Homo sapiens: one gene and its partners. The protein of the gene in region 7 purifies or fractionates together with the protein of the main gene of each other region. This does not show direct contact. Each region holds a gene or a part of one and is shown on either strand. Other genes may lie near its edges. The genes, in order: NBR1, SYNRG, MRI1, EDC3, CLINT1, BMP2K and ARHGAP18.

What was found.
Region 1: the proteins of ARHGAP18 (region 7) and NBR1 purify together in Homo sapiens (affinity purification with mass spectrometry, with the first as the bait; one large-scale study listed by BioGRID). This does not show direct contact.
Region 2: the proteins of ARHGAP18 (region 7) and SYNRG purify together in Homo sapiens (affinity purification with mass spectrometry; one large-scale study listed by BioGRID and IntAct). This does not show direct contact.
Region 3: the proteins of ARHGAP18 (region 7) and MRI1 fractionate together in Homo sapiens (co-fractionation; one large-scale study listed by BioGRID). This does not show direct contact.
Region 4: the proteins of ARHGAP18 (region 7) and EDC3 purify together in Homo sapiens (affinity purification with mass spectrometry; one large-scale study listed by BioGRID and IntAct). This does not show direct contact.
Region 5: the proteins of ARHGAP18 (region 7) and CLINT1 purify together in Homo sapiens (affinity purification with mass spectrometry; one large-scale study listed by BioGRID and IntAct). This does not show direct contact.
Region 6: the proteins of ARHGAP18 (region 7) and BMP2K purify together in Homo sapiens (affinity purification with mass spectrometry; one large-scale study listed by BioGRID and IntAct). This does not show direct contact.

What each region holds. Positions count from the first base shown.
Region 1 is NC_000017.11:43,198,714-43,202,213, reverse strand, and holds part of NBR1 (next to BRCA1 gene 1 protein), read right to left. Parts: intron 2,048-3,500; coding exon 1,606-2,047; intron 529-1,605; coding exon 434-528; intron 1-433. UniProt on the Homo sapiens protein: Ubiquitin-binding autophagy adapter that participates in different processes including host defense or intracellular homeostasis.
Region 2 is NC_000017.11:37,518,919-37,522,418, forward strand, and holds part of SYNRG (synergin gamma), read right to left. Parts: intron 1,731-3,500; coding exon 1,620-1,730; intron 1,297-1,619; coding exon 1,261-1,296; intron 154-1,260; coding exon 22-153; 3' UTR 1-21. UniProt on the Homo sapiens protein: Plays a role in endocytosis and/or membrane trafficking at the trans-Golgi network (TGN). May act by linking the adapter protein complex AP-1 to other proteins. Component of clathrin-coated vesicles.
Region 3 is NC_000019.10:13,767,522-13,771,021, reverse strand, and holds part of MRI1 (methylthioribose-1-phosphate isomerase), read right to left. Parts: intron 2,664-3,500; coding exon of another isoform or gene 2,575-2,663; exon of another isoform or gene 2,462-2,574; coding exon 2,285-2,461; intron 2,199-2,284; coding exon 1,974-2,198; intron 1,445-1,973; coding exon of another isoform or gene 1,425-1,444; exon of another isoform or gene 1-1,424.
Region 4 is NC_000015.10:74,665,025-74,668,524, forward strand, and holds part of EDC3 (enhancer of mRNA-decapping protein 3), read right to left. Parts: intron 1-3,500. UniProt on the Homo sapiens protein: Binds single-stranded RNA. Involved in the process of mRNA degradation and in the positive regulation of mRNA decapping. May play a role in spermiogenesis and oogenesis.
Region 5 is NC_000005.10:157,803,646-157,807,145, forward strand, and holds part of CLINT1 (clathrin interactor 1), read right to left. Parts: intron 2,468-3,500; coding exon 2,221-2,467; intron 75-2,220; coding exon 5-74; intron 1-4. UniProt on the Homo sapiens protein: Binds to membranes enriched in phosphatidylinositol 4,5-bisphosphate (PtdIns(4,5)P2). May have a role in transport via clathrin-coated vesicles from the trans-Golgi network to endosomes. Stimulates clathrin assembly.
Region 6 is NC_000004.12:78,779,350-78,782,849, reverse strand, and holds part of BMP2K (BMP-2-inducible protein kinase), read right to left. Parts: exon of another isoform or gene 956-3,500; intron 1-955. UniProt on the Homo sapiens protein: May be involved in osteoblast differentiation.
Region 7 is NC_000006.12:129,640,678-129,644,177, forward strand, and holds part of ARHGAP18 (rho GTPase-activating protein 18), read right to left. Parts: intron 1,342-3,500; coding exon 1,139-1,341; intron 1-1,138. UniProt on the Homo sapiens protein: Rho GTPase activating protein that suppresses F-actin polymerization by inhibiting Rho. Rho GTPase activating proteins act by converting Rho-type GTPases to an inactive GDP-bound state.

The DNA of each region.
Region 1 (3,500 bases), on a different chromosome or scaffold from region 7:
GAGAGTGAAGGGCAAGTTTTTTTTTTTTTTTTTTCAGACGGAGTCTCGCACTGTTGCCCGGGCTGGAGAGCAATGGTGCGATCTCGGCTCACTCCAACCTCCGCCTCCCAGGTTCATGTGATTCTCCTGCCTCAGCCTCCCAAGTAGCTGGGATTACAGGTGCCCGCCACCATGCCTGGTTAATTTTTGCTATTTTTTAGTAGAGACAGGGTTTCACTATGTTGGCCAGGCTGGTCTCGAACTCCTGACCCTATGATCCGCCTGCCTTGGCCTCCCAAAGTGTTGGGATTACAGGTGTGAGCCACCACGCCTGGCCTGTGAAGGGCAAGTTTCAAAAAACCACCAAGAATCACGAAGAGAGAGAGGCTATTTATACCTGGTTTCCATTAGACAGGAGCAGAGAAAAAGAGAAAAAGCTTAGGCTGATCATTACCTCCTCTGATCTGATCAGGGACTGAAGAAACTTCTGGTATGGTAACTGGTAAATCCACTCCTGGGGAACCATGATGATGTACACAAGGAGAGCTCCTTTCAGAAAGACACAATATGGAAAGTAAATTGAAAAGGCACTTATGGCAACAGTGGAGAAATAGTAAACACAGCACAGCAGTGCCAAATTCTCTACAGAGGCTTCACATTTCTGATCCAGATCACATGTCTGGATTTAGGGTTCCATCATAAGGGCTACATTCTACCCCATTTTCCTCTTTAGCCACAGGCAAGCTAGAAATGTTGGCTTCAGTCTGGTCATGTCCCCACCTATATCAAGTGGTGTCAATAAACGGAAATGTCTAGCTTTTGGGGAGAATGGTTTACATTATAGTCAAGGCTCCAGCATTTTCCCTACTATTAGGAGACAAGAATGATTCAGATAGATTCACCAGAGAATTAAAAATAATTAGTTTGGTTTTATAGTGTTTTTTCCCATAATGGATTTAACTTCCTAATTATGACTGTTTGGGTTGAGTTTTTGCTGCCTTTACTGAAGAGTCAATAAAACAAGGAGGGAAGGTCCAGGGATGTTTGTGTTTAAAAACTGGCTCTCAGCCAGGCATAGTGGCTCACACCTGTAATTCCAGCATTTTGGGAGACCCAGGCAGTTGGATCGCTTAAGGCCAGGAGTTCAAGACCAGCCTGGACAACGTGGCAAAACCCCGCTTCTACAATAAATACAAAAATTAGCTAGGTGTGGTGGCCCATGCCTATAGTCCCAGCTACTCAGGGGGCTGAGGTGGGAAGATTGCTTGAGCCTCAGAGGCAGAGGTGGCAGTGAGCCAAGATTGTGCCACTGCACTCCAGCCTGGGCAACAGACTGAGACCCTGTCTCAAAAAAAAAAAAAAAAAAACACAACCAGCTCTCAATAATCAAAATATAAGCAGACAGACTATACTCAGATAATTTAAGGCCAACTAAAACAAATATTTCTTTAAATCCAGAATCCACAAATACTGGGAAATACAACTTTTATTCATCTAAATTCAGACTTTGCTATGGAAAATAGTCTCTTTCCATACTGAGGAAAAAACAGGTTTTGAGATCAGGTCGATTCCTCTCTTTATTTCACCTCTGAAGAACACCCCAGCTGAGGGGGCTGTGAGTGGTACCTGGGCAGTGACGGTGGAAGCTCCACTACCTCTGGGATTAGGGGCACTGTTTCCAGAGTCTGTGAGGTCGTGAGGATGTCACTTATGCTGTGCTCCTGTGGCTGGTTCTCCCCTCCAGGGAGTCTTTCCCCAGCCTCAGCTGGTTCCTGCCCAGCCTCAACCCCAGGCTTGCCTTCAGCACCTCGCTCCAGGCCTGGCTGTGAGAGCGCAGAGCTGTACATAGAATCCCCCAGGGGGCGGCTGGTATCAAAGCACTCAGGCAGGATGATGATGTAATCCTCTGAGGAAGCAGAGGACTGACTTTGAACTTCATCTTTGAGCTCATCCTCCTCCTCCTCATCCTCCTCATCCTCCTCCTCCTCCATGACAGCTTCTTCCTCAGCGATATGGATAATCTCCTCCTTCTCATTTCCAAGTGGTCCTTCAGGCAAGGCAAATGTCACTAAAGGATGAAAGCAACCAATTTTAAGGTGGAAGCTAAAAGCAGGCCTAAGTACTATCCTTACTTGGTAAAGCCTTGTGGATCATAAGCTAGAATTATGAAAGCCAGAGGAGAGGGAAGAACTAAAGGGAAGGGCTGGTTCTGGAACTATGACCATATTCTAAGTTTGAAGACTATGCAAAACAAAATAGAATCAAAGCTCACAGAAACAAGGTAGGCAGAAACACTCAGGTTTCCAAGAAGCTCTATGAATCATAAAAGGAGGCAGCTCCATCCCTTTTTTCCTTTTTATGTGATGGTTAATATACTGAGTAGAGTTTAAACCAAAACTGATACACTAACAGTGCTATAAAAAGAGAAAAAGTTAGGAGATGAGTATTGCAGGATTATATGTCTATCTCCTCCTCTTCTTTACAAAGATGATGCAGTCATGGGAGAAAACTGGCCAATCATGTTTGAGAGGGTAAAAAAGGATAGAAAAAAGCTACCCAGGGCCAGGCACGGTGGCTCACGCTTGTAATCCCAGCACTTTGGGAGGCCAACGTGGGCAGATCATGAGGTCAGGATATCAAGGCCATCCTGGCTAACACGGTGAAACCCCATCTCTACTAAAAATACAAAAAAATTACCCGGGCATGGTGGCGGGCGCCTGTAGTGCCAGCTACTCGGGAGGCTGAGGCAGGAGAATGGTGTGAACCTGGGAAGGCGGAGGTTGCAGTCAGCCGAGACCGCGCTGCTGCACTCCAGCCTGGGTGACAGAGACTGTGTCCCAAAAAAAAAAAAAGCTACCCAGGCCAGGTGTGGTGGCTTACGCCTAAAATCCCAGCACGTTGGGAGGCCAAGGCAGGCAGACTGCTTGAGCTCAGAAGTTTGGGACCAGCCTGGGCAACGTGGCGAAATCCCATCTCTACAAAAAAAAAAAAATTTAGCTCATTGTGGTAGCATGTGGCTGTGGTCCCAGTTGCTTGGGAAACAGAGGTAGGGGGACCCCAGGATGTTGTGGCTGCAATGAGCCATAAACTTGCTACTCGCACTTTAGCCTGGGCGAGTGAGACCTTATCTCAAAAAAAAAAAAAAAATTACCCATAAATCCTATCAGAATAACAGCTGTGAACATTTTGGTACTGTCTTTCCAGACCTTTTTGTTATGTATTTGTACACACATGTGGAAAAAAATATAAAGATATACATGACTGATTGATTTGAGATGGAGTCTCACTCTGTTGCCCAGGCTGAAGTGCAGTAGCATGATCTCAGCTCACTGCAAGCTGCACCTCCCAGGTTCACGCCATTCTCCTGCCTCAGCCTCCCGAGTAGCTGGGATTACAGGTGCGCCCGCCACCACACCCAGCTTATTTTTTGTATTTTTAGTAGAGATGGGGTTTCACCGTGTTAGCCAGGATAGTCTTCATCTCCTGACCTCATGATCCGCCCACCTCGGCCTCCCAACGTG
Region 2 (3,500 bases), on a different chromosome or scaffold from region 7:
AATGCTTCACAGAGGAGTTGTTCAGAGCAGGTCAGGCAGGACGAGGCCAGGAGGCTTTGGTTCGACACAGTTGATCCAGAAGTTGGCACAGCTGGCGTGATACTGGTGCCCTCCATAGGCCAGCTTGAAACTGTCTGTTTCTGAGTTGAATGCCTGCCAGAAATAAACAGAGATGTGGGGCAAGTCAGGCTTTTTCTGCATCTCAGAGCTTTTCAGCAACCAACATGTACATCTATCTCTCCAGGTCACAGAGGCTGAGGCCAAAATGGCACACACATAAAAGCTGAGCGGATAGCTACAGGAATTCAAGAGAGAAGGTTTTTTACTGCTAATTAAAGGTATAAAATTGTTACCACTAAACCTAGTTTCAGCAAAAGGTGGCCAAATCTTCCATGGAAAAGGCAGACAGAGGTTATGGGGTGGAGGGGGGGAATCATGATAAGGGGAACTGAAGTAGCCAAGGGCTGTGGATAGCTTTCATCCCTCACTGTGCTGAAGGAAGCCCTCCTCCTAAGGCCGGCATCTGACTACAGCATGCAATCCTTTACACTCCTGTAGCTGACCACAAGCCTATCATGACAAAAAATTACAAGAGAGTTAGAGAACGAGAGAGTTAGAAAACGAGAGAGTTAGAGAACGACAGATAACAACTCTTAGGGTCTAATGGCATTGACCCTAATGCCTAATGAATCTACATTATCAAAAAGTCCAAACAGGTATGGAGTTAAAAAAAAATGCCTCGAAATGAATGGGCATTAAACACATAAGAATTATTTCCAGATGAACAGGCTTATCAGTAAGCTACAGTCAGCCATGGAAAAGTAGAGTCCAAACCTCAACCACTTCCTGGGGTTAGTTTTCTAATATGCACTGCAAATAAACAAAACTCTAAAACCCAATTTGCTGCTTGTCTGTTAAAATGGCTAAATGGCTACATCCTGAAGCTCTTTGATCTCCATCTGTGTGTCACTACAACTTCCAGGCTTCCAGAAGTTGCTCATTCTGTCACCCCATTCATCACAGAGAAAAATAACTGCAACACCAGAAGCCAATTATGTGAAACAAGCATGCAAATAAGACAGAAGTGGACCCACACAGACACATTAGGAGACTCCATCAAACATTATGGGAACAAAACTGACTCAGTGAAGGATTCATGATTGGAACAGTTCAGGATGGCAATGGATAGAATCATCCAATTTGCCCTCCACACTCAAAATTAAAATGGAGACGCTAAGATAAGGTGTAACTGGTTCATACTTTTTTAGGATGTTCTTCTGCAGGCTTCTCTTCTTTCTGAAATAACGTTGAAACCACAGGTCAACAACATTCCCAGAACAGGGCCTCTTGCCTCCAAACACATCTTTACAGGTTCACCCTTTTCCCCTGACCTCCCCACTATGCACAGGGTGCTGCAGGCATGAGAGCCGCGTCCATTCCCTCCACAGCTCCCCCGCTGCCCTCTCGAGGGAATGTGTCTGCTCCTACCATCAGCTTTTAGGACTTGAGAAAATCCCCACCTCTGGTCACAAACTCTGCAGTAAAGTGGGCCAGATGAGGTTGTCCAGAGTCATGTTAGGGAAGCCCTTTGCTGTCTGCAAGGAGGCTGCGTGACTTACCCGGCTCCTCGAGTCCACATTCAAGAGGCACACTCCACAGGCAAGCTCCTGAGCATTTTTAATCCCAGGCCGTAACATACAGGAGGAAAAATCCAGCGAGTTTTCATCTGGCTGTGAGGACGACAAGACAAATGGGTAAGAAGTCCACAAGTCCACACGCTGTTCACTTCACTCCCTCATCACTCACCCCCAGCAGGCCTAGCGGCAAGTACAGTACTCTAACACCACCACTACAAGAATTAACCTCCCACACATCCACTGGGAACCTGCCACGGTTCCAGGTGCTAGGAAGGCCGGCACCAGTACAACACGCCCTCTGACCTCTGAGAACTCAGTCTCAGGTGGGCGCCAGGGGAGCCCGTGCAGTGCCATGAGTGCTGGGTGTGCTTACTTGGGGGAAGTCCTGAGTGCCAGGGCACAAGGGAGCGGCACTTAGCCCAACTCGAGGAGGATGGGGCCTGAAGCCAGAGACTGCGTCCTAGAACTTTTTCTTTTCTTTTTTTTTTTTTTTTGGAGACAGAGTCTCACTCTGTCGCCCAGGCTGGAGTGCAATGGTGTGATCTCAGCTCACGGCAACCTCTGCCTCCCGGGTTCAAGCGATTCTCCTGCCTCAGCCTTCTGAGTAGCTGGGATTACAGGCGCGCCACCACGTCTGGTTAATTTTGTATTTTTAGTAGAGACAGGGCTTCACCATGTTGGTCAGGCTGGTCTTGAACTCCTGATTGCAGGTGATCCACCCGCCTCAGCCTCCCAAAGTGGTGGGATTACAGGCATAAGCCACCGTGCCTGGCCTGCTTCCTAGATTCTAAAATCACCTTGGCTGAGTGTAGATGGGAGCTGCTAGGTGAGGGGGACAGGAGGGTTGGGTGAGGTAGGGGAGGGAAGGATATTCTATGCAGAACAAGCAGCACAGGCAAAGGCTCTGAGCTAAAGATGGGGTATGGGAAGGAATCTAGAGGGTGGGGGCAGGGCCCAGGGAAAGAGGAGATGAAGCCGCAGCACGAGGACTCCAAGGAAGATAAGGAGCATCCTGGAAGCCACTAAGGCTTCCAACTGGATCACGACAGGCCCAGGTTCGTATTACTGACAGATCCCTCTCGCTACAGTATAGGCAATGAATTGGGGGTGGCAATCCTCAGGGCACAGGCCTCAGCCAGAAGTCTGCTGTAGCAGTCCTGGAGACAGATACCGATGGTCAGAATGAAGGCAGCGGCGGTGGGGAATGGAGAGAAATGGGCACGTGAAAGAGCTGACGAGGCAGGAGAATGAGCAGGCCTGGGTGACCTGCTGGATGGGAGAGGTTGGGGGACCCGGGCAGCTGAGAGGATTCACCATAATAAGACACGTGAGAGAAGGACCAGGTTTGAGGATGGAAGCTGAGGAGAAGAGTTCAGTTTGGTCCAAGCTGAGCTGGAGCTGCCTGTGGGACAGCGAAGGCCACATGCTATATAAGCAGGTGGTTGGATACACATACAGGCCTCCTGCTTGTGGAGAGATCTGAAGGTCACCAGCTAAAGACCATAAATAGAACAACAGCTAATACGCCCTTACTTTCAAGCACTATACTAAGCTCTTTATATGCATTATCTAATTCACTACACACACACACACACACACACAATGGTTAAAAGGGTAGGTCTCAATCTTGGAAAGCCGTCCAGTCACTCTGTTGCTCAGGCTGGAGTACAGTGGCGTGATCACAGCTCACTGCAGCCTTGAATTCCTGGGCTCAAGAGATCCTCAGCCTCTCAAATAGCTGGGGCCACATGTGCATGCCACCACGCCCAGCTAATTTTTTGATTTTTTTGTAAAGATGATTATCTCCCTATGTTGCCCAGGCTGATCCTGAACTCCTGGGCTCAAGTGGTCCTCCCAAAGTGG
Region 3 (3,500 bases), on a different chromosome or scaffold from region 7:
CTCCTGAGCTCAAGTGATCCTCCCACCTCAGCCTCCCAAAATACTGGGATTTCAGGTGTGAGCCATTTTACCTGGCCCCATAATGCTAATATTGGTTCATGCTAATATTTCATGAACTGTTTTTTCTTTTTTTTCTTTGAGATGGAGTTTCACTCTTGTTGCCCAGGCTGGAGTGCTGTGGCGCTATCTTGGCTCATTGCAACCTCCGCCTCCCGGGTTCAAGCAATTCTCCTGCCTCAGCCTCCTGAGTAGCTGGGGTTACAGGCATGTGCCACCACGCCCGGCTAATTTTGTATTTTTAGTAGAGGCAGGGTTTCTCCATGTTGGTCAGGCTGGTCTTGAACTCCCGACCTCAGGTGATCCGCCCGCCTCGGCTTCCCAAAGTGCTGGGATTACAGGCGTGAGCCACAGCGCTCGGCCTTTTTTTTTATTTTTGAGATGGAGTTTCGCTCTGTCACCCAGACTGGAGTGCAGTGGTGCAGTCTCAACTTACTGCAACCTCTGCGTCCTAGGTTCAAGCAATTCTCATGCCTCAGCTTCCCAAGTAGATGGGACTACAGGCATGTGCCACCACGCCTGGCTAATTTTTATATTTTTTTAGTAGAGACGTGGTTTCGCTCTGTTGGCTAGGCTGGTCTGGAACGCCTGACCTCAAGTGATCCGCCCACCTCCGCCTCCCAAAGTGTTGGGATTATAGGCGTGAGCCACGGCATCTGAGTGCATGAACTATTTAAAGGGCCAGTCATTGATCTAAATGTCCTGTGGGTTAATTCACTGACCGCCCTTGGGTTTATGCAGCAGGTTCTAGCCATAGCCCATTTTACAGATAGGACCAGTGAGGATCTTAGGGAATTAGAGAATTTAGGGAACTTGCTAACGGTTGCACAGCCAGGAAGTATAGGCAGCTAAGAAAAGTCTTGCAGCTAGGCATGGGAGCTCACACCTGTAATCTCAGTGCTTTGGGAGGCTGAGGCAGGAGGATCGCTTGAGGCCAGGAGTTTGAGACCAGCCTGGGGAACATAGCGAGACCCTATCTCTATGAAAATAAACAAATAAAAATAAGTGTAGAAATATCTTGCTTTTTCTTTTCTTTTTTTTTTTTGAGACAGAATCTCACTCTGTTGCCCAGGCTGGAGTGCAATGGTGTAATCTCAGCTCACCACAACCTCCGCCTCTCAGGTTCAAGTGATTCTCCTCCCTCAGCCTCCTGAGTAGTTGGGACTACAGGCGGGTGCCACCATGTCCGGCTAATTTTTGTATTTTTAGTAGAGACGGGGTTTCACTATGTTGACCAGGCTGGTCTCGAACTCCTGACCTTGTGATCTGCCCGCCTCGGCCTCCCAAAGTGCTGGGATTACAGGTGTGAGCCACCTCGCCTGGCCGTCTTGGTTTTTCTTTACAAACACGTGGCCAGCCAGATATTCTTATTTCCTCTTAAGAAAACCTAAGTGGAGAATAGCAAGACAGTTACTCAAGATCATTCATATAACCGGTTAGTTGTAAATTCCAACATTGGATCTGACCTCCAGGATGCACCTGTTAGAAGAAGTGGCTTGGGCCAGGCGTGCTGTGGCTCACACCTGTAATCCTAGCGCTTTGGGAGGCAGAGGCAGGCTGATTGCTTGAGGTCAGTAGTTAATAAATAGCCTGGTCCACATGTTGAAACCTCATCTCTACTAAAAATACAAAAATTAGCCAGGCGTGGTGGCACCCACCTATAGTCCCAGCTACTTGGGGGGCTGAGGCAGGAGAACTGCTTGAGCCCGGGAGGTGGAGGTTGCAGGGAGCCCAGATCGTGCCACTGCACTCTAGCCTGAGGGACAGAGCAAGACTCCATCTCAAAAAAAAGAAAAAAGAAAAAGTGGCTTGTAGGAGCTGTGTATGTTCCAGAAGGATGACAAGGACCTGCATATCACCTGCCTCCATGAAGTGCCCAGGAGCTGGGGTGTCCCCTTTCTGAGGGGGCAGCTTACCAGGTGCTGCAATCCGGACCCCATTAACATCGGTCAGCTCCTGGCCCGGTCGCTCTTCAATAATGATCTCCTTGCCGGTCTCCAGACGGAGGTCACATGAAGAGCTGGGGGCAGCCACGTAGAAGGGAATGCCATGGTGCTTGGCGACAATGGCCAGCTGGTAGGTGCCCACCTTGTTGGCTGTGTCGCCGTTGGCAACCACGCGGTCAGCTCCCACGACCACAGCTGGGGAGGGGGCGTATGAGAAGTTGGGGGTCATTACCTGGCCCCATGCTCCAGAGCCCCGCCCCCAGGGCTTACCGTCTGCTTACCTGACACGCCCCTATGGGCCATGGCAGCAGCCACCATGCTGTCGGTGATAAGGGTGGCGGGGATCTGCTCATAGACCAGCTCAAAGGCCGTCAGCCGGGCTCCCTGGTTGTAGGGCCGGGTCTCTGTGCAGAAGGCATGCTCCAGGCGGCCCAGGCTGTGCAGTGAGCGAATCACACCTGCGGGGGCCCCACCCACCAGGAGAAGGCCCCGGGGAGGGGCAAACAGACAGGGTGGTCCATTGGTTAGGGGTGCAGGCTCCTAGTCTGGGCGTGGATTGCCAAAGGCTTACCGAGCACAGTCCCGCCCAGGGGCCCTCGCAGTGGCAGTTCCCTCTGCCTGGTATGCTCTTCCCAATGCTCGCATAGCTCCGTTTCACGTCTGTTTAAAGGACACCTTCTCGGTGAAGCCTTCCCTGATATATCAGTTTTGCATAGCAATCCCCACACTTTCAGTTTCCTGCTCTCTGTCCTTAGCATTTATCACCTTCTAACACCTCATGTGTACAGGCAGCCCCCCTTTTCTATGGGTTCTCCATCCATGGACTCAACCATGTGGATTGAAAATATTTGGGCTGGGCGTGGTGGCTCACGCCTGTAATCCCAGCACTTTGGGAGGCCTAGGCAGATGGATCACGAGGTCAGGAGATCGAGACCATCCTGGCTAACACGGTGAAACCCCATCTCTACTAAAAGTTCAAAAAATTAGCCGGGCGTGGTGGCGGGCACCTGTAGTCCCAGCTACTCGAGAGGCGGAGGCAGGAGAATGGCGTGAACCTGGGAGGCGGAGCTTGCAGTGAGCCGAGACTGCGCCACTGCACTCCAGCCTGGGCAACAGTGCAAGACTCTGTCTCAAAAAAAAAAAAAAAAAAAAAAAAAGGAAAGAAAGAAAATACTTGAAAAGAATCGCTGGAACCCAGGAGGCAGAGGTTGCAAGGAGCCAAGGTCGTGCCATGGCACTCCAGCCTGGGTGACAGAGCAAGACTCTGTCTCCAAAATAAATAAATAAATAAAAAGCAATCCTCCCATCTCAGTCCCCTCCCGAATAGGTGGGACCACAGGTGCATACCACTACACCCAGCTAATTTTAGTATTTTTTGTAGAGATGGGGTTTTGCCATGAAGCCCAGGCTGGTTTTGAACCCCTGAGCTCAAGCGATCCGCCCACCTTGGCCTCCCGAAGTGCTGGCATTACAGGCTTAAAAATAGAGACAGGGTCT
Region 4 (3,500 bases), on a different chromosome or scaffold from region 7:
CTACTTTGTTTGTTTTGAGATGCAGTTTCACTCTTGTTGCCCAAGCTGGAGTGCAATGGCACGATCTCGGCTCACTGCAGCCTCCACCTCCCGGGTTCAAGCAATTCTCCCTGCCTCAGCCTCCCAAGTAGTTGGGATTACAGGCATGCACCACCAGGCCCAGCTAATTTTTTGTATTTTTAGTAGAGACAGGGTTTCGTCATGTTGGCCAGTCTGGTCTCGAACTCCTGGCCTCAGGTGATCTGCCCACCTCAGTCTCCCAAAGTGCTGGGATTAGAGACATCAGCCATCATGCCCAGCCTCAGCTATCTACTTTCATGTTCTACAGGCAAAAGAGCCTTAACTTAACTGTTAAATTTTTATTCAACTGCATGTTACAATGACTATTCAAGCTCATAGACTAAGATTTCAGAGAGGGATGCCTTTCATCTGCCCCTCATGGTCACCATTTTCAGCTGTGACATGGGATTTGATAAATATGAATTATACCCATACACAGAGCTGCACCCTAAACAAGGCTTGGTTTCCCTCTGCTCCCTGGGACTGATGTTATGTCTATTTGACAAACATTCTGAATGGTCACAGAAAAACTATTCTTTACATGATTCTTTAAACCCACTCCCACCCGAAAAGAGATTAAAATCTGCTTGTGCTAAATCATCAGTGTTGGATTAGCTAACTATTATAAACCAACAAATTCCTCAACTCCTTATTGCAATCCTGAAAGAACACTTAAAAGCCAGAACTGAAGACAGATTATATTTCTTTCTTTCCTTTTTTTTTTTTTTTTTGAGACAGAGTTTTGCTTTGTTGCCCAGGCTGGAGGGCAGTGGCACAATCTCAGCTCACTGCAACCTCCGACTCCCAGGTTCAGGCAATTCTTGTGCCTCAGTCTCCTGAGTAGCTGGCATTACAGGCACCCACCACCACACCCAGCTGATTTTTTGTATTTGTGTACAGACGGGGTTTCACCATGTTGCCTAGGCTGGTCTCAAACTCCTGAGCTCAGGCAACCTGCCCGTCCCAGCCTCCGAAAGTGTTAAGATTACAGGCATAAGCCACCACACCCGGCCGACAGATTATATTTCTATAGCTTCATCAATCTACTAGTCTCAATATCAATGTACATAAACTGGAGAAAATTCTAAGGCAGACCTTTTTACTTACAGGGCTCAATGAGTGGAAAAATAATTATAACTCTACCTTCTATCAGAAACCTATTCTGAGCCACGTCTTATTGCCATTCCCAGGCCACAAACATTTTCCAAACTAATCTGGATTCTACATAAGTTTCTTGAAAAATAGTAACATTTTACTGCCCTATGATCTCTTTACCTCATTTATGTACAGTTAACAATCTAGAAAAAGGAAACTGACAAAACAGCAAAAGCAGAATAACCAAAACCTGGAAGCCACCAAGATGTCCTGCAATAGGTGAATGGGTAAACAAATTGATATATCCACACAATGGAACATTATCCGTCAATTAAAGAAATGACCTATCAAGTCACAAAACGACATGAATGAATCTTAAATGCATCTTGCTAAGTGAAAGAAGCCAGTCTGAAAAGGGCTACATACTGTATGATTTTAATTATGTGATATTCTGGAAAAATGCAAAACTGCAGGGATGGTATAATAAAAAGATCAGTAGTTGCCAGGGGGAAGTGGGGGAAGTTGAACAGGTAAGGCACAAGAGATTGTTTAGGACAATGAAACTATTCTGTTTAATACTGTAATGACAGATACATGATGCTATGTATTTGTCAAAACCCACAGAATTTTACAGCACAAAGAGTGAGCCTTAGTGTTTGCAAATTTTTAAAAATCATTTAGGAGGTTAGAAGATCCCAGGATGGAATGCAGAATGTGATAAAACAAATTAATTGTATTATGAATATATGAAACAAGTCAATGAAGGAAATGGGAGACCTAAATAACTCTAGAAATGAATGGAGTCAGATGAAAGGCAAAAGAAACAGTACGTAAGCACCACATTCTGTTTGATAGTCTCCCACAGGAATGGCGATACAAGTTAATAATTCTGATACCACTATACATGTATACTGGAATTGAATAATTATGTAAAGAATGAATGACAATAGGAGACAGGTTTCTCACTGTTGGAGTGAGAAGTAACAGACAAGCAAAAGGAGAAGGCTAGAAGGATCCATGTGGTAATGGATTAAAGTTGGAGACATCAGTATGAACTCATACTTAGTATAGTACAATATACATAGTTACATATAGAAATATTTAAATATGTATATATATGCTGGTTAAATATACACACATATATTTTCTTTTCTGTGAACTCTGCAGAGAAGTATACACATTTTCTTGCTGTCAGCTATAAGGGTGACACCCAGGAGCAATGAGCATCCCTAGTGAAGAAGAAAGAAAGGAGAAGGGGGGAGGAGGGAGGGGGAGAGGGAGGGGGTGGAGGGAGGAGGAGGGAGGAGGAGGAGGAGGAGAAGCAGCAGCAGCAGCAGTAGTAGTAGTAGTAGTGGTAGTAGTAAGCATCTTTCAGTGTGAGAAAGTACCTAAGTACTAAAAAAAAAAAAAAATAAAATCCACAATGATTGGAGTATGTCAAAGGGACATGAGATCCAAGTGAAAGATTGGAGACTAGCCAAAACTGAAATAATTTGAGTACCAAAATAAAGTAATATTGAATTATAAGCCAAAGTATAAAATAAATACCCATGAGTACATGCTGATATAAATAAATGACTGAATAAATAAACAAATGGGGGAGAAGAGAGGAATCTCTGGCATAAAAGAATTCCAAGTAATGTCTGAAGATGCTGTGTCCTCAAGGAGAGGGGACATAACTTCTCACTCCCTGGGTGTGGGCTGCACATAGTGATTTCCTTCCAAAGAGTACATATGTAAAGGGGAAGAAAGAGTCACTTTACAGAGGAGAAACTAGATATATCCTACTTTAGCCAGGTGATCAAGGTGAACATCAAAAGTTATAAACCATGGTGATAATATATACACTTGACACAAGGTGATGAAAATGGTACTTTACCTCTGTTGTCTTCCACCCCCAAACATATAACCCCAGTCTAATCATGATTTAAACATCAAGTACCAACTGAGAGACATTCTACAAAATACCTGACCAGTATTCATCAAAATGTCTAGGTCATCAAAAACAAGGAAGGTCTGAGAAACTGTAAGAGCCAAGCAGAGAAATGACTACCAAATATGATGTGATATGCTGGACAGGATCCTGAAACAAGGGCATCCGGGTAAAAACTAAGGCAATCTGAATAAAATATGGACTTTGTTTAATGATAATGCATCAACATTGGTTCAATAATTATAACAAGTATACCATACAAATGTAAGACGTTAATAACGGGGAAAAATGTGTAGAAAAAAATAATATGAATTGCTAATAAGGGTCATCTTCAAGTGCACGGAAGATTATAAACTGCCTATTTGAACTTCTAACAAATCAACAATTTCTGCTAAAAGAAAAAAGATTTTCA
Region 5 (3,500 bases), on a different chromosome or scaffold from region 7:
TTACCTGTTGACTGGCTGGTGCCATCAAACAGATCAACAAGGTCACCAGATGACTTGCTGCTAGGCACTGAAGTCTGAAAACACACACATAACTCAGGAGCTTCGAAAAGTTTGTTTTTCTAAAAATCAGCTCTATCCATCTCTAATTCTCAATTTAGACATAAATACCTGTAATTAGCTTAATAAGGGTAGGGTTTTCTGGAAAAAGAGTACTGACCTTGAATCCTTATGGAGAGGCAGCAAGCACTTTTAAGTACCTCCATTCCCAGCAGTGTAAAAGTCTCTTAACATTGACACTTTTTTTCCTACCTCACTTTTCTGACTGCATTTCACTCTGGAAAATATTAACTGCCAGATCCCACTTGAATCTTAATGCTAAGTATCAGTTCATTAAAAAAAAAAAAAAAAAAAAATACCCTAGCATATGTACCAGTCCCATACAATACACTGAGTCATAATTGCCCAGGTATAAAAAGGCCAAGACCTTGGCCTGTTAAAGTCTTACAAGAAAGCTCCCTAGATAATTCCAAGGCTTGAGATCCACTGGATTAGAGGTCAAGATCCTAAACAGCTCTAAATTTCTATGAACCTTAGCAAAACTTATTGTTTGTATATCACACAAGTTAGTATAATTCTATGTTATTTGATATATTGATATGTTTCATATTTAGTTCCCCAACTAAACTGAGGCCTATACCTGTAATACTATTTTTATCTTCTCCACAAAGCTAAGCACCCTGATACCTAAATACCTATGTCCTATATGTTAGATATATACATGCTAAATTAGAACTCAATTATTAGGCAATGGGGAAACCCTAAGATCCTAGGCATGTTGATTTGAACTTTGAAAACTAAAATACTATATACTGTGATTCCAAAACACCTTTAAGAACAGATCCAAATGAGTTGGGTAACTTTCTAAGAACTTCAACCTTCTAGACATTTTTTTTGAGGGGAGGAGGGTAAATGAAAACAAAAAAGAAAAAGCTTGTACTGCCGGGCGCGGTGGCTCAAGCCTGTAATCCCAACACTTTGGGAGGCCGAAGCAGGTGGATCACTTGAGGTCGGGAGTTCGAGACTAGCCTGACCAACATGGAGAAAGCCCGTCTCTACTAAAAATACAAAAAAATTAGCCGGGCATGGTGGTGCATGCCTGTAATCTCAGCTACTCGGGAGGCTGAGGCAGGAGAATCACTTGAACCTGGGAAGCAGAGGTTGCGGTGAGCCAAGATCGCGCCATTGCACTCTAGCCTGGGCAACAAGAGCGAAACTCGGTCTTCCAAAAAAAGAAAAAGAAAAAGAAAAAGCTTGTACTACAAATATAAAATATTTATTGCAGAGTGTCATATATTCAGGCTATACTACAAACTGTTATTTAAAATCCTTTAAGATATGTGATAAAAGTCTCTATTATTAAAAAAATTATACAGATATTTGGCAAAAGCTGACATGGTATTTGTTATTGCAACTAAGCAGGCCTGGTTTTATTTTCAGAGTCACCTACAATCTGCTGCATACATTAGAAAACTGTTTTTCCCAGCTTTTAGCTATTTCTCTTGCAAAGACACAAACTGGGGAAACAGTAGTCGGGGAAAGTGACAAAAACAATAATTTAGTCTTTTGAGGCAAATCTCCCTATTTGGCAGATTTCTGTTGAAAAGACTAGGGTTTGGCCAGGTACCTAGCAGGTGGATTTCATCTCTATGGTAAATAAAAACAAACGAAGATGGTACAAGAGGCAGTGCTTCTTTTGATACTGATCAGTAATGACTGTGAGGCAAACACGCCTCCCTTTATAGGCAACGTTTCTACATTACATGAGATAACTTGCCCCTATATATCTCTTCTTACTCCCTCGTTTGTCATTTCTTAAAACTTTCAAATACTTCCAATGTTTTCTTTAGTGAATCTACTTGTGGTTGGTAACCAGTATTGTCTAGATGGGGACAGAGGCACTACATTCTGATTCACAACCTTCCCCAAACAAACCAAAAGTGTCATTTCTACTTTCATAGAAAGTACCCAATCATTCAGCAATTGGACAGGTTTCTCCCCTCAAAGAGATTTCTTATTATTAATGTCTCTTGGTAATACATGCCAGATGATCCATAATTAATATGATTGCCTAGAAATGCCCAAGCCTACTAATGCAGGAATTCGAAGAGCGGTTTATAAAAATAAAACCATGTATAATGTGTAAACTACTGCCATTCCCACCTTAACTGAAGACTGAGGTGTGTGGGTTGAAGCATTCTGATCTGGACTTGCTTTGTCCCCTGTGTAATGTGCTGCTGCTCCAAGATCAATGGTTTTGGAAGGATTTGCTGTGCGCTTGTGTCTGGTTGTGGTGGTCTCTGTGGCCTGTGTGATATGAATATGCTTTGTCGTCACAGTCTCCTCTTCATCTTTGAATTCACCTTTGGGAGATCTGCCTCTTCTCGCTTTCTTTTCCTCATCGCTGTCGCTAAAAGATATTAAAAATGAAGCAAAATAATAAGACGGGATTATTTTAAAATGGGTCCCTCAGTGATTTGAGCTAAAGAATTTCAAATACAGTAACTCCAAAATTTCATACTTTGACTACTTGACAGGGATCAACAGAATGTTATCTAAGCTGTCTGAATAATGATATATGTGCGCTGGGGAGGGGAAGTGGAAACACAGAGAATATCCTATATAAGTCTAAAATACTGCTACAAAAAAGTATTTACATAAATGTGTATAAATAAAAAATGTCAAAATAACTCGTTTTTATTACAGATTTAAGCTTAACTTAAAAATAAAATAGGATTTGATATCAGAATCCATGATAAGACCCTGAGAGTTCAAACACTTGCATGTGATGATTATTTTCTTGACATGGACTGTGTGCAAATTACTATAGTTCCACTTTTACAACACAATTCTGCATCAACTCTCAAAGACTAATGTGTGTACATAATAAAATAATAAAAGTTCAATGGATGCTAAAAAAATCACACATCTTAATTCGAATAATTAAACTCATCTGTAAATGCATGAAAATATAAGGGAATGCACTTTACAACTGTGCTATTTTACTATAGTATCAGGAGATCAAACTTTTATATAACTATAGAAAATGCTTTCTAGAAAACAACTGTATTTAAAATATTTTAAAGATAATTCTCCTTCAGCCACATTCAACAATTTTTTCTTTCCTTTTTCTTTAATAGTGAAAAAGATTTTAAAAACTAAACAGTAAAAGCCTGGGTTTTTCATATGCTAGGAATGAAAATATCAGCCCTAGTCTGTTCTCTAGTAACAAGTCATTGGGTTTTTTTCTGATGTAAGTAGGAGAGAGAGAGAGAGAGAGAGAGAGAGCGAAAGAGAGAGAAAGAGAGAAATGTTACTTGAAACATGTTCCATTACCTGTATTACTTAATTTTAGAGTAGGTGGTTTAATTTATAAATATTCTGGAATATAATGTTTAAAATTCTCCTTTAAACTGCTGATGCAATTTACCTCAGACTGAACT
Region 6 (3,500 bases), on a different chromosome or scaffold from region 7:
ACAGGTGAATAGACCTTGGTTCTACCCCCAAAAAGCTCAGCATCCAAAAAAAGCTGTCAAAATTAACCACAAAATGTAAAACAATTTCACAATTGCATGTAACATACTTTTTTAAAAACTCAGCCACCTTTGTAGAATAAATAAAAATACAATGTCAATAAAGCAAGATAACTACAAGGGGGCATCTGGGTTATTTTTTTTCTTTCCTGTTTCAAGTTGTTAAGTGAAATGACACTGCCTTAACGGTTGTTTGTCTTCACCAAACTAGAAAACACAGAGTCCTCTGGCCTAAGTACAAAACCTTTGATGGTCCAGTAAAGAGCCCTCCATTGGTGCTCTTCAATTTGCAAATTAGGCCTTAAATTCTACTGAAGATCATCATCTGATTAAAAATAAAAAAATCAAGCACCATTTCCTTTGAGAAGTAGCTGAATGTTCATGGTATGGCCAACTTGTGTGATACAACATCAATTAAAACAGAGTCTGTCTAGCCTTAAGAATTTTACTATCTGGTAGTGGAGATGACAGAGGAACAGTAGTTAACAACCTTAGTGTTTCTAGGTGCTTACATAATTCCATCTCAAGACAGGTTAAATGTGACAAGAGGGAAAAAAGCAAATAGTTACAAGTGTCCACAGAAAGGAGGAAGTGATCATAACCAGTACTTAGGAAACAGGGATTACAGAGACAAAGGCAGAGTGCTAGGCAAGTACAAGATTCAGTCACGGACCAACAGGGAGTGGAGCACATTGCACCAGGCGCAAAGAGTATTCACCTAGCAAATAATTACAGGTAAGCTTTTAAAGATAAGAAGTGAGCATGAATAACTGTGAATGCCAGGCGAAAAAATGTGATCAAGTAAGATGACTTTGCAGCAACACAACTGCTCACTCCCTCCCCTTCTTGAAATACTCTCAAGTTTCCAGGTATCAGAGTGTCCTGGTATTCCTCATACCTCTCTAGCACCTTCTTCTTAGTCTTCTTCGCCCGCTCGAAATCAGTGGTACTCGGTACTCAAGACGTGGTTCCTGAACCGGCAGCATCTGTATCACTGAAAGAGTGGGCCTCACTCAGACATAATCAAAAGTTGGGGACCAGGCTCAGCACTTCTGTTTTACCAAATCCTCTGAATGTTTACAATGAACACTAATGTCTGAGACCAATGCACTATAGGAGTCCTTCAATGAGCACCTTCTCATTCTACACTCTCCCTACATCCATCCTCTCCCAGGGCTTTAAATAACAGCCAGGGCTCACTAATCAATCAGAAGTACCATCTCTAAGCCCAAACACCTTTGCTGAGTTCCAGACGACATACCCAGCTTCCCATTTGATATTTCCTCTCAGATATCTCATCCAAACACATCTCTAAACATGTCTGAACTACTGGCTGTCCTCCAAACACCTCAAAAAAAAAAAAAAAAATCTGTTCCTTCCTTATGTTCCCAAACGGTACTTTCACCTGAGAGATACATAAGCAAGTAATTCCTAACACTTCCTATGACCACCACAAGGTCTTCCCATTTAAGCATTATCATCTTCATCCCCACTGTCATCATTTTAACCTTATAATTTGTATACCTCTCTATACAGCAATCAGCATGATCTTGTAAAAATACAAATCAGAGCATGTCACTGCCCCAATTCAAACCCTTCAATAGCTTCCTGTTGCATTTCAGATAAAACCTAAACTCCTCAGCATGGTATACTAAGCCCCGGACCCTGGTCACCTTGCCAACATCATCTTGGATCTCTCTTACATGTGATTCATTCATTGTAGTCCACAGCTCTGAGCATATTTCAGTTTCTGAAACTTCCTTCCCTCACACAGAGACTTCAGTCTTCATGACATACTTCAAATCACCCCAACCTCACACCTCTGTTTTTACCTAACTTTCTTCATCCTTCAGGTTTCTGCTAAAAGATCAAAAAGGCCTTCCTTGACCCCCCAGTCTAAACTGAATTCTCTCATAAAACCCTGAGCATTGTCTTCACGACACATATAAAAAATTTTAACTATAGTAACTTGGTGATTTTTGTTGGCTTGTTTAGCTTTTACCTTCCACACTAATCTGTAAGTTTCATAGGCCAGAAGAATACCTCCACTATTGTCCTCTACTATGTTAAGTAGCACCTAGCAGTGCTTAGCACACCAAAGGCATTTAATGAAGTTGTGTAGTAGTAACAGTTGTTGATATTTTTATTCGATCCTTCCCTTTTTTCTATCCTCTCTATCTTCTCTTCGGAATGTGAACTTACAAGTTACTGGGCAGCCACAGATGCTTTCTGCAAATGAGATATAATGCTTAAATCTATCATTTCCCTACTAATTTATAGTGCAAAATCAGATGTATAGTACAACCTTCCTGAAAAATTAACAACGAGAACTGGCTAATACTTAGCTTATCTAAGCATTTAACTCTAAGAGAAATACTGAGCTATTTTTAAAGAACCCTGTAGTAAATTCCTGGCCTCCAATTACTAACAATCCAATAACCCCCAACACCCATCTCAGTAAATCTTACCCACATCACCATATTCACACTATCATTCCTACCCAGCCCCCATAACCTCGTGATTACATTATCTCAACAAGTTATCTCTGCTCTCCCAGTCTCAACACCCCATTTTAGGTCCATTTTGTACCAAGGACATTTAGGGAAAACAATGTCCCCTACTCAAAAACCAACTTATTATCAATCAGTATTAAATTCCTCAGACTAGCACCAAAGGCTTGTTATGGTGATGCATGTGGTCAACAAGCCAACCCCAGGTTTTAGTAAAAACTTGGAAGGTTACATTGAATTAATTATATGAGCCTGACAATTTGTCACTGTTTGAAGCTAAAACCAACATACCGCTCTCCCTCATTTCTACAGACCAAAGCTGGGATCTGCTTAGTACAGACTCCTAAACATGTTTTTGAGAAAAAAAACATGAACTGCCTCACTATGTTATCAGTCCTTTAAACTTTGAGGAGGAACTAAAAAGGTGCAAGTTCTATTTTCAAACACTTATGTGCTTGACTACAAAGACATTATGATACAAAGTATATAATGTTTCAGAGAGAAAACTTTAACAGTTTAGTTATAACATACAACCTACCCCTGAGAATCTGCTTTTCAAATTATAGACATAATATGTGCATATACATATCTACCTATAACAAAGGTTGCTCCTCATTAGTTGAGGATACTATATTTACAAATTCATCTACTCACTAACATTTATTTGTATCCCCAAAATCATTACTCATAGCACTTCCACTGTCATTGCAGACATGTGCACAATGGTGAAAAATGTGAGTCTACTGACGTGCACATTCTAGTTTCAGCTTACATAGTGTAAACAAGTGTCCTTTTCATGGTCTATTTAGTGCCATGTTTTTCTCATTTTTGTGCTTGCTATTGGTGATTTCACTGTTGAAAACAGTCCCTAAGCGTAGTGCTAAAGTGCTGTCTAGTGTTCAAGGAGCAAAGACTACAGAGAAAATACAAGTG
Region 7 (3,500 bases):
ATATAGATTTTGCTAGTTAATTAGATCCTAAGTCATTTAGTTAAGAAGTCATTGTGTTGAGAAGGAAGTCTCTATTAGTGGATCACAAAGCACTGATTGGGGCTCTCACATTTTGGCATTTATACATCAACTTATATAAACATACTTACAAATGTATAGATGGCACAAGGCATAGAAAGAAAGCTAATACAACAGACAAGAGAATTGGACATGAAAAACTTAGCAACTGCTTGAATTTCAGAGATTAAAAGAAACGGTACAAAAAAACTTTAAAGTTTTACATGTTTCTCCCAGAATATCAAATATTATAGCAGAGAATGGGAAATATGGCTGGAAAGTGACTCTACAGAAATTATGCACCAAATACAAGAAAGAAGTAAATATGGAAGCTAAAAACAGTAATGCCACCATCTACTGTCCAACTCTATATTTTTAGATTAGTTGGCTAAACATGAGCCGTTGCATCCAATCTGGAGAAGTATACTTTGAATGACAAAATAGCCAGGACCACAACAGGTCTTTGAAAACCACCCACAAAAATTGGTTTATGTGAATTTTCTTTCTAGAAATGTCTTGGCTAGGAACAAGATAAATATTCTCAAGTATATGAAAGGCTATCATGTAAAAATAGAAGAGCCTTCTTCTGTTCGTCCCAAAGGCATAACTACAGCAAGAGAGTCAAAGTTAGAGGACAGCAGATTATAAATCAATAAAACAAAGATCAAAAGAACTCAAGCTGACTGACCACTGGAAAAACAGTCTCACTGCAAAGCAGTGCTCTATCACCATCTGCACTCACTAGAGACCAAATGACAATGTGGCTACCACATCACAGAAGAAATTTAAAGGGAGGTTAGATGGTTTCAAAGATGAAGTCTAACTCTAAAAAGCTATGATACAGTGAGCTTAGCCAACAACATTCCAGCCATATCTATGACTAAGCTAACTTACTTATGCCACTTGTATCTGGCAGTTGCATCCATAAATCTGCCTCAAACAAGTATTTTTCAAGTTGAAAGGCAGTATCTTTTTTTGGTGGTCCTAGCTTTAATTTTTTTTTTGTTCTCTTCCTTTCTATGCATTCATTTCCTATAAATACATATACAAACAACAAAAGCTTTATTTAGTTAGTTATTACCATCAGGCTCTTTGACAACAACCACCTCTTGATCTTCTTGGCTGTTTTCACTAGATTTCTTGATGTTTTCTAGTTCTATCCAATAGTCTTCCATAGATAGTTCATCCAAAGAATCCTGGGAAATTGATCGATCAAATGGAGGCTTCTCCATAACTTTGATGGTGGTGCTTTCCTGGTTCATAGTGTACTGGCCATATCTGCGACTGTAAATTCAAAAGAACCCATGGTTTATTTTAGTACAAAAGGAAGCAGTATAATTTCTAAGACATCACAGCAACAAGCTGGAGAATTTATTAACTCCTTAAGTTATCCTTAATAAAACTAAAGGAATATATATTTTGGAACAGTTTACTATGGATTATAATATGCTTGTAGAATAAACAGTTTCATGCTCCACAGAAAAGTATGGGGAAGTACAAATAGCAACATGGTAAATTATTTTTCCATTTACATTAAATGAAGACTCATTTTTCAAATATATTTTTTAGCGACAAGGTCTTGCTCTGTTGCCAAGGTTTGAGTGCACCAATGTGACCATAGCTCACTTTAATTCCAAATTACTGGGCTCAAGTGATCTTCCCACCTCAGTCTCCTGAGGAGCTACTACTACAGGTATATACCATATTGCCCAGCTAATTTTTTTTTTTTTGGCAGACATGGGGTCTTGCTGTGTTGCCCAGGTTGGTCTGAAACTCCTGGCCTCAAATGATCCTCAACTGATCCTCCCACCTCAACCTCCCAAAGCACTGAGATTAAAGGCATGAGCCACCACACCCAGGCATAAGACTCATTTAAACCTGAAACTTTGTTTTTAAAAAGCAACACATTAAATCTTGATTACAGACTATTAATTGGGAATGAATTTTATATAATTCTTGTGTTTATCATTTATATTCATAAACCAAACTTAGTCAACTCTTATACAGCAAATATCTTCAACCGATGAAGCACTATTTGAATTTCCATTTTATTTTTGAAATCAAAATATAAATAGGATGATTTAAGTTTGCTGTTATAATCTACTGTAGAAAGAAATTTCTAATCTTTATTTATAAATGGACCCATGATTTATATGTATTAAAAATTCAAAACTGGGGTACAAACTCATTTATTAGCAATTCTGAATAGCTTGGAATTACCTCAAACATTTCTCTCTCAGATATTATCTATGAAGAATAAATTGAATAAATAAGAGTATTTGTATAACTTCAAGTAAACAATGTTTTTTGTTATAATTCATATCTTACCTACTTCTAAAATTGAATTAAAGGAGCTTATAATAAAAACCTATATATAATAAAATAATTTTTTGTTTTATTATTATTTATAGAGAAGACCATGCCCGATTCCTTAAAAGAAGAAATTTTTCAGCTTTGATGCCTTTCCTTTATATACGGTTGATATGGTTTGGCTATGTCCCCACCCAAATCTCATCTTGAATTGTAGTACCCATAAGCCCCATGAGTCCTGGGGGGACCCAACAGGAGGTAATTTAATCATGGGGGCAGTTACTTTCATGCTGTTCTCGTGATAGTGAGTGAGTTGTCATGAGATCTGATGGTTTCATAAGGGGCTTTTCCCCTTTTGGCTTGTTACTTCTCCTTGTTGCCATCATGTGAATAAGGGTGTGTTTGCCTCCCTTTCTGCCATGATTTAAGTTTCCTGAGGCTTCCCCAGCCATACTGAACTGTGAGTCAATTAAACCTCTTCCCTTTACAAATTACCCAGTCTCAGGTATGTCTTTACAAGCAGCGTGAGAATGGACTAACAATAAATTTTTTTAAAGAATACAATTTGAGTGAGGACAATAGTTGAATAACTGTTTTGCTATTCTAATTTTCAGATTGCTTCTCTCAAGAAGGACTTCCAGGAAGTAATTCTTTGTTTGCCAGATTGGTTTTACTTACTGTACATATTGAAAATAATTTTAAAATTACAACAAAATAATAGTGTGTGAACATTCACATTTAAACTAACCTTTCCCAAAATTGTTTAAAATAGTAGGATTTTAATAGTACATAAGGGAGAGGGTCACTAAACTCTGGGCGAATCTATCCAGCAGCTTAATTCCAACTGGTTAGAAAAAGGCAAGGAACTTAATTGTTTATTGCTGCAAATAAATGCAGTATAACTGAGCACTTAGCTTTAATATGCTAATAAGCCAGTTTTATTCCTTTAAAGATGATTCTTCCTGCCTTGATTACAAACTTTATTAATGCTGGTTGCATACATGAATAAACAATCACTATACTCTCTCCCCAGTAGCAACCTTGGGGTGGCGATGGGTGGGAATTAGGACAGGGGCCAACAAGCCTAAGTCTAGACATGTTTGTGAATCTCTTTCCTTAAGTCTCCATTGTTC